Regions from separate parts of the Homo sapiens genome. Here regions 1 and 3 are each linked to region 2. Evidence: fine-mapped expression QTL. A gene starts in region 2. Each other region holds a variant in brackets. All regions are shown on one strand. Distances are between the middles of the regions. Region 1 overlaps LOC101928219 (a long non-coding RNA gene). Region 2 holds the start of LINC02607 (long intergenic non-protein coding RNA 2607). Region 3 has its middle 36 kb from the start of LINC02607.

The links. PIP is the estimated chance that this variant, and not a neighbour inherited with it, causes the effect.
Region 1: its variant is fine-mapped to the expression of LINC02607 in nasal epithelium (TOPMed, PIP above 0.99).
Region 3: its variant is fine-mapped to the expression of LINC02607 in cerebral cortex (GTEx, PIP 0.92).

Annotation. Positions count from the first base shown.
Region 1 is chr1:95,741,315-95,743,984 of GRCh38, forward strand. All of the region lies in intron 1 of LOC101928219 (a long non-coding RNA gene), which reads left to right. Among named protein-coding and RNA genes, the nearest start is that of LINC02607, 230 kb to the left of the region's middle. RefSeq lists an enhancer at 1,067-2,266. The variant T/A (reference allele first, on the strand shown) is at 1,428.
Region 2 is chr1:95,508,896-95,511,565 of GRCh38, forward strand. It overlaps LINC02607 (long intergenic non-protein coding RNA 2607), which reads left to right and starts at 1,221. Exons shown (of 2, transcript NR_110622.1): 1 at 1,221-1,467.
Region 3 is chr1:95,545,105-95,547,774 of GRCh38, forward strand. No RefSeq gene overlaps it. Among named protein-coding and RNA genes, the nearest start is that of LINC02607, 36 kb to the left of the region's middle. The variant A/T (reference allele first, on the strand shown) is at 1,316.

The DNA.
Region 1 (2,670 bases), 230 kb after region 2:
GCATTTGTTTGCCTAGAAAAGATTGCATCTTTCCTTCATTTATAAAGCTTAGTTTTGCTGGATACAAAATTCTTGCTGATAATTGTCTTGTTTCAGGAGGCTAAAAATAGGACCCCAATCCCTTCTAGCTTGTAGGGTTTCTTCTTAGAAATCTGCTGTTAATCTGATAGGTTTTCCTTTGTAGGTTACCTGATGCTTTTGCCTCACAGCTCTTGAGATTCTTTCCTTTGTCTCAACTTTAGATAACCTGATGACTATGTGCCTAGGTGATAATCTGTTTGCCATGAATTTTCCACGTGTTCTTTGAGCTCCTTTTATTTGGATGTCTAGATTTCTAGCGAGGCTTGGGAAGTTTTATTCGATTATTCCCTCAAATATGTTTTCCAAACTTTTAGATTTCTCTTTTTCCTTGGGAACACCAACTATTCTTAGGTTTGGATGGTTAACATAGTCCCAAACTTCTTGATGGCTTTGTTCATTTTTTTTTTTTCATTGTCTTTGACAGACTGGGTTAATTTGAAAGCCTTGTCTTCAAGCTCCGAAGTTCTCTCTTCTGCTTATTTGATTCTATTGTTGAGACTTTCCAGTGCATTTTGCATTTCTCTGTGTCCTTGATTTCCAGATGTTGTGATTGTTTTTATTTATGCTATGTATTTCACTGAATATTTTTCCTTTCATATCCTGTATTATGCTTTTGATTTCTTTAAGTTGGACTTCACCTTTCTCTGGTGCCTCCTTAATTAGTTTAATAACTGACCTTCTGAATTCTTTTTCTGGCAATTTAGAGAATTTTTTCTTGGTTTGGATCCATTGCTGGTAAGCTAGTGCTATCTTTTGGGGGTGTTAAAGAACTTTGTTTTGTCATATTACCAGAATTGTTTTTCTATTTTTTTCTCATTTGGGTATACTATGTCATTGTATTTGTATATGTCAGAGGGAAGATCTGGAGTTCAAGTGCTGCTGTTCCAATTCTTTCGTTCCACGTGGTGTTCCCTTGATTCGATGTTCTCTCCCTTTCCCTAGGGTCGGGGCTTCCTGATAGCCAAACTTCAGTGGTTGCTTTTGCTCTTCTGGGTCTAGCCACCCAGCAGAGCTACCGGGCTTCAGGTTAGTACTGGGGAGTGTCTGCAAAGAGTCCTGTGATGTGATCCATCTTCAGGTGTTTCAGCTGTGGATGCCAGCACCTGTTCCGGTGGAGGTAGCAGGGGAGTGAAGTGGACTCTGTGAGGGCCCTTGGTTGTGTTTTTGTTTAGAGTGCTGGTTTTTTGTTGGTTGGCCTCCAGCCAGGAGGTTGTGCTTTCAAGATTGCACCAGCTGTGGTACTATAGGAAAGATGCAAACTTGCCCTGGGGTTATCTGGTTAAGTATTCAGGTTTCACAGGCAGTGGGGCAGGGCCTTAGAGCTCCCAAGAGATTATGTCCTTTTG[T/A]TTTCAGCAACCAAGGGGTGGGGGAGGTAGAGAAAGAGCACCAGGTGGGGCAGGAATAAGCCTGTCTGTGCTCAGCCTCTCCTTGGGTGGGGCTTGCTGTGGCTGCTGTGGGATATGGGGGTATAGTTCCCAGGCCAATGGAATTACGTTTCCAGGAGGATTATGGCTGCCTCTGCTGAGTCATACAGGTCTCCGGGGAAGTGGAGGAAAGCCAGCAGTAACAGGCCTCACCCTGCTCCCACGCAGCCTGCAGTCTTAAAGGCCAGTGTCACTCTCACTGTGCTCCCCCAACAGCACTGAGTGTATTTCCAGGCAGCCAGTGACTAAATGACTAGGGCTGAGAACTTGCCCTATACCACAAGCCTCCTCGCTGAGAAAGCAAGCGGACTCACAGTTTTTCAGGGAGCCTGCAGCCGTGATCCAGTTCTTTCAAAGGGTCTGTGAGTCTTTCAGCTTTCCTGGTATGTTTCTTTGGTAGTTCCGGGAGCAAAAGTTCATGATATGAGTCTCCACACACTGCTCTGTCTGTCCCAAGTGGGAGCTGCAAGCTAGTCCTGACTCCTATTGGACATCTTAATCCCCTATTACCTGGTCCAGTTTTAAATAGGAACATCAGAAAAGATTTGACTGAGATTTGATAAAAGGAGATAAGCAAAAACAAAATAGAAACAAAAACAACCAAAAAATACAGGTACCTGGAGAAAGGGCAAAGTCCCTGAAATGAGTGTTTTTGCTATATCTTAAAAACAGCTAGTGGGCCAATGCGACTGAAATGCAGTTTTGGGGAAATGGAAGAATAGGAGGAATAGAAGACCAGGCCAGAGATATAAGGTAAATCATGCACATTTTTATGCTCAGTGTATTAATGATAGATTGAGGGGACATTGGCAAAAACAAGAAAGCTAGTTAGGAGGCTATTGTAGCAATCTGAGTGACAGCTGATGGTGTTATAAAGGTGGTGAGTTGTTAGATACGGGATGTATTTGATAGTAGAGCCAGTGGGATTTCCTGACAGATCAGATAAGGGATAAAGCAAGGTATTTGTTGTAAGCAACTGGAATAAGGAGTGGAAATTTACTAAAGTAAGGAAAATTGAGTGGAGCACTTGGGAAAGGGGAGAGACATCAGGGTTTTTATTTTAGGGAATGCTGTTTGAAATCTCTGTTAAGCAGAATAATGGAGATGTGGAGTAATTTATTTGCATATGTTCTCTTGGTGAGGTCCAAGCTGGACATATAAATTG
Region 2 (2,670 bases):
TTATTCACTTCTCCAGTCCAAGCTGGTTTGTTTGTTTGTTCCAAATCTTAACATCTGTTTTCTATGTGGTTGATTAAAAGGTTAGAATTCAAGGCAGGCGTATTTTCTGCCTCAACCACCCATAATTTAACCACTATACAGCTATTTTTCTTGCTATTTCTGTTTCTAAATACTACCACACATGATTTTTTTGGGACTTCTTTTTGTGACCCCTCTATGCGAGGAAGTTAGATTTGTTTATAGAGCTCTAGGGCTTGAGGTAGAAAAAAATTATCTCCAGGACTCTTTCCTGCCTGGAAGAACCTTCTTCAGCCACTTTCACATCCCTTCTGCTTGTCTGCATCTCATCCATTACCTGGGACTCCTCCACTGCCCAGTCCTGAGGCAGTGCTCTGGGTTCTTTTCCAGGAGTACTGCTTTTGGTCATTAGCTGACTGCTGCTCACTGGATGGCTATGTGAAGAGTCTCTTTACACTGCAGGGCTGGTTGGAAAGTCATGGACCCATTGAAGGCAGTGTGAACTCACTGTCTTGTGTTTCTGAACAGAAGAGCAAGGCATATCTGGCTCTGGTAGAACTGGAGGGGACAGATGTCTCTCCTTGTTCTACCTGTTTAAAGTTAACAAAGAGTAATAGTCTGGGAAAGAAACCTGAAAAAAAAAAAAAAAAAAAAACAAAAGAAAAAGAAAAGAAAGGAAAAGAAGAAAAAAGTGAGGGAGAGGCCAAAAAAGAGCAGCCAGACCTTCTGCCCTTGCTTCAATAATATCTGATCCATCATGATCGTTCCTGTGTACTGGAGTTCTGAATGAGGTCTCCATTGACCAAAGGAGACTGCTGCAAAGATAAAAAACTGAAGGGCACTTATCTTATCCAGTCCCTTCATTGCAAAAGATGAGTAAAATGTGTTATAGGAAGGTTATGAATAGCTAGGGAATATCAGAAACACACATATTGTCTTTTCCCTTTATTAATAGATTGTGGGGTATAATGCTGATCTGCTACTATTAGATACATTGAGATCAGATATAATCTGCATCCATACAGTCTTTCCAGAAAATATTATTCCCATCCTTTGGCAGGGGTGCTCAGTGCACTTGAGTCAGATGAGAAACATTCTTTGGGAATAATAGAGTTCTTCTCCCTTAGAAATGTTTCATGTACTTCAGAGTTGCTGCCATATGGTTCCCATAAAGGTTCTGCCAAAATTCCCGTGGTTCTCACAAGAGCTCCTACCTCCTCTGTTCTTTTAATCTCCTGCTGCGGGTGGCAGACATGGGAGAGACAGGCAAGCTGCAAAGGGAAGTCGACGAAATAAAATTAAAGCCCTACAATCGTGTTCGTGTCAATGTAGATGGGGTGCCCCCCTCGGTTTGCTCACAGAGGTGGGTGTGAGATCCTACAGGACGGTCTGGAAGACATCCCATGGAAGGCACTTTATTTTGCCCAGAAGCTGGAGGAAAAGCAGAAGGCAAGTGTTGTCTCTTAGAAGGCCTGGGCGGGGGGTAGGGGGATGGTAAAGGTTTAAGGAGAAGAAGTCTTTAGGAATTTTTACTTCACAGAAAAAAGAGAATGATACCTAGAGGCTTGTCTGAATTTGTGAAACAATGTAACAACAGAAAGAGGCAATGTTTAGAAAGGCTACCCCTCCTGATTATGTGTTCTGGCAGGCAGGGCAGAAACAGTCTCGGTGCCCATGTGAGGACTGGAACTGGTTTCTTTTCTCCTTTACATGATTGTTCTGAGTCCCTTCTGTTTCTTGGTGAGCTATATTGTGGTCTCTCTCCCAATCCCCCACCCTAAATTCTATGTACGTAAGTGATTGACAACTTTCTTCTTTAGAAAATCGCAAATTTCTCTTGAAGGTAAATGGCAGCGTTACAAGATACACTCGTAGAGTCTGTAGTTGTGGAACATATGCTCCTGCTTGCTAATTTCTGACTGCACATTTTGAAATAGATTCTTTGAGATTAATGACCAATTATTAGCTCTGACGTGATGCTTGCTAAGTTGGATGTGGATTCATTTAGTAAACCTTGTGTGTGCATTTGTTTTTTTATGTTTAGCAACTGCTTACATGGATCACCTGTTTTTGTTTTGCTATGACTTCAAAGTAGGTAAGGCAAAAAGAGACTTTTGGCCCCTGAAACTCATTCCAAAAATTATACTGAAGAAGTGAGATCTCTAGGTAGGTCTTGCTGAGTTTGGCAAGCCCAGGGGGGCTTATATTTTGATGTCATGTCACTTCTTTCCCAATTGTCCTGTTGTTTGACTCATCTAGAGGAGATTTAGCACACATGTTGGAGAGCAGTGAGGTGAAATAAAGGTCACTCAGGAATAGCATCCTCACAGGTCCTCATTCTAGCCAGGGTCCATCTGTATAAGCTCTTTGGGTGATCCCTCCCCACCTCCGTAAATGTTTGCCTCTCATGTTGCAGGTAGTCATGGGGCTTTTGCTTGATTTGACTGAGACAGTGAATTGATTTCACTCCCCCATTTCCCTCTCCTTCTACCCTATTTGAATTGTCTCTGCATGCTTGAAGATGAGGTAATTAAATATATCTTTGAAGGATATAGAAAACAACACCACCCTCCTCCTTGCCTTCTTCTGGGGAGTGCAATCCGGTAAACTACCAGGTTGTCTTGTCAAATGAGTTATTGTTTTTCAAAATGT
Region 3 (2,670 bases), 36 kb after region 2:
TAGTATTCTATGTTTTTTTTCCTTTTTTACACAACTTTTTGTTTTTCCTTTGAATTACTATTTGTCTTGCTTATTTGTTTTCTTAATTCTCTTTGTACTTATCGCTTATTCAACATTGATATTTCCCTCAGTTGTCTCAATCTGCTCTCATGCATTGAAACACATCAGATACTCTATACATTTCATGTTCTTGGGGACATCTTTCCTGGGGCTTACTGACCTCCTTAAATCTCACCTAGTTTTCTCCTTAAATTTAAGAGGAAGGCACTTAAAAGTTGATTGAAAACTTTGTGGGCATGAACAGAGCTGTCAGCTGTGTATTTTGCTGTAGAATCACATGGTGATGATGCTATATAATCTTTGTGTTTACCACTTTAATCATTCATAGAGTAAACATAACATAGTTAATGGTATCTTTACTGATTGATGATAGAGTACACATTTAAAGTTCTGCTACTAGAAATAATTCTTGGATGAATATCTTTTTATATATACTGAATTATTTCTTTAGAAGATAGTTCATTTTCTGAGTTTGGTCAAGATGATGCAGTGGGGCTGGAAATGGCCTATTTGGTTCTCTATGATGGTAATATCATGGGAACATTCTTTCTTCTTCACAGAATAAAACTCTCTGTGAGTCCAGGTCAGTGCAAGAGAGTCTAAGTCTCTATAGACTTTCTCAGATGCAAAGCCAAAATTCATCTTAATTTGTCACATTGCAGTATTCTTTTGTTCAGCTTTAGAGAAGAAGATATTTTGCTAGAGATAGTACTTAGAATCCCTAAGAATGTCAGTGATAGATACATTTAAATGTAGAATTCTAGGGTTCCATGCTACTGGAATTTAAAAATTTGGTGAATGGTAATGGTCATAAATGATATAGGATGAATAGGCATGTAGACATTCACTAGTCAGTTTTACTGTGTCAATAATGGCAGGAGTCTGCAAGAAAATTACTCTTGATATATCTGTCTCTAATGAACTGGACAGGCATTACCAAACCAACCTCTCAGCAATGAAACTTTGTGACAATGTAGCTCTGATTTGTCTTTGTTTTATCTTGTTAGCCGAGACAGTTGATAGCAAACACGTAAATGGATGGAATTAAAGCAATTCATTTGCACTCCCAGAAGGATTATTTTAACTGTTGGTATGGGTTGAATTGTTTCTCCCCAAAAAAGATACGTTGGAGTCCCAACCTCCAGTATCTAAGAATGTGACCTTGTTTGTAGATAAAGGTCTTTACAGAAGTAATCAAGTTAAAATGACCCATTAGGGTGGGCCCTGATCTAACATGACTTGTGTCTTTATAAAG[A/T]CGTAAAGGGGAAATTTGACACAGAGCTAGACACACATAGAGGGAAGATGATATGAAAAGACACAGAGAGAAGATGACCATCTACAAACAAAGAGCAGCGGTCTGGGATGGATTCTCCCCTCCCAGTCCTCAGAAAAAGTCAACTCTGATGACACCTTGATTTTGAGCTTCTAGCTTCCATAACTATAAGACAATACATTTCTTTTCTTTAAGCTATCAAGTTAGTGGGTTTTCGTTACGGCAGCCCTAGCAAAGTAATGCAAACATTTCCTCTATTCCATTTTGTTAATCCAGCTGTTCATGCCAGGGCCTCCAAGTGCTTTTTAACCGGAGCGAAATCTTAGTTTCAGCAGAATGTCAAGTTGACTTATGCTAAATAGATAATAGCTTTCTAAATTCCCAATACCAAGTATTAAGATATTTTAAAATATAACTGTTGCTTTTTTCTCTCATTATTTCTGAATGTGGAAAAAAATAATCTCATTAGAAATGTTGTTTTCAAATATGTTAGCAAGCCAATTAAAATATAGGCTTCTGGGTTTTGCCCGGATGGTAGTGATGAAATTAATTATGAGCCCCATGCTCTGCTTTCTGTGAGTTTCCTCTTCTCTTAGACCAAGCTGGCAGGTCTGTTATTGTAAAAGAAACCACTGAAGGGTCATCACCAGTATGAGATGAAATCATCGATGAACGTTTGACAGTTTGTAAGGCATAGTGATGTTACTTAGATGTTTTGTTTTCTCCTTGGGTGACATGGGCAGCATAGCAATTATAGCACATTTCAAATCATTGCTTACAGGGATATGACTCATTTCACAATGCAGTACTTAGTTGGGGCCCTGGCTGTGGATAGAGACAAGTATCTTTCTGTTTATGACTTTTCCTGAATTATGAGCAAACCAGACAGAGGCTTAGGTTCATTTGAAATTTTACACTGTGTTTTTCATTTTAATGAGATGCCTGGGTAAATTCAAAACCAATACTTTACACTGACACTTGATACGCACTGACATGTCATTATGTCCTACACATGCTGGTCAGGACTTGTAAAACAGAAACACCAGAGCCATCTCAAGAGTCTCCAAATAGATATGGACGGAGTATTATGCCTGAATAGGTGGCACCTCTTTGCTTGTGCACTTGCCGTTTTTTACTGACCTTGTTTGGAGCTGAACACTGCTGCAGGCACCCTTAAATTGATGCCTTATGACAGGTTCTCAGTTGAGTACTCAAACAGCCAAATTACTATTAGTTATTTTTCCATTCTTTCTGGCCCATTCACCCAACTAATAATAGTTACTGTTAGTTCTTGACTCCACTAGTGACTGAACAGTCACTTTTTAATCTAGCGGGTT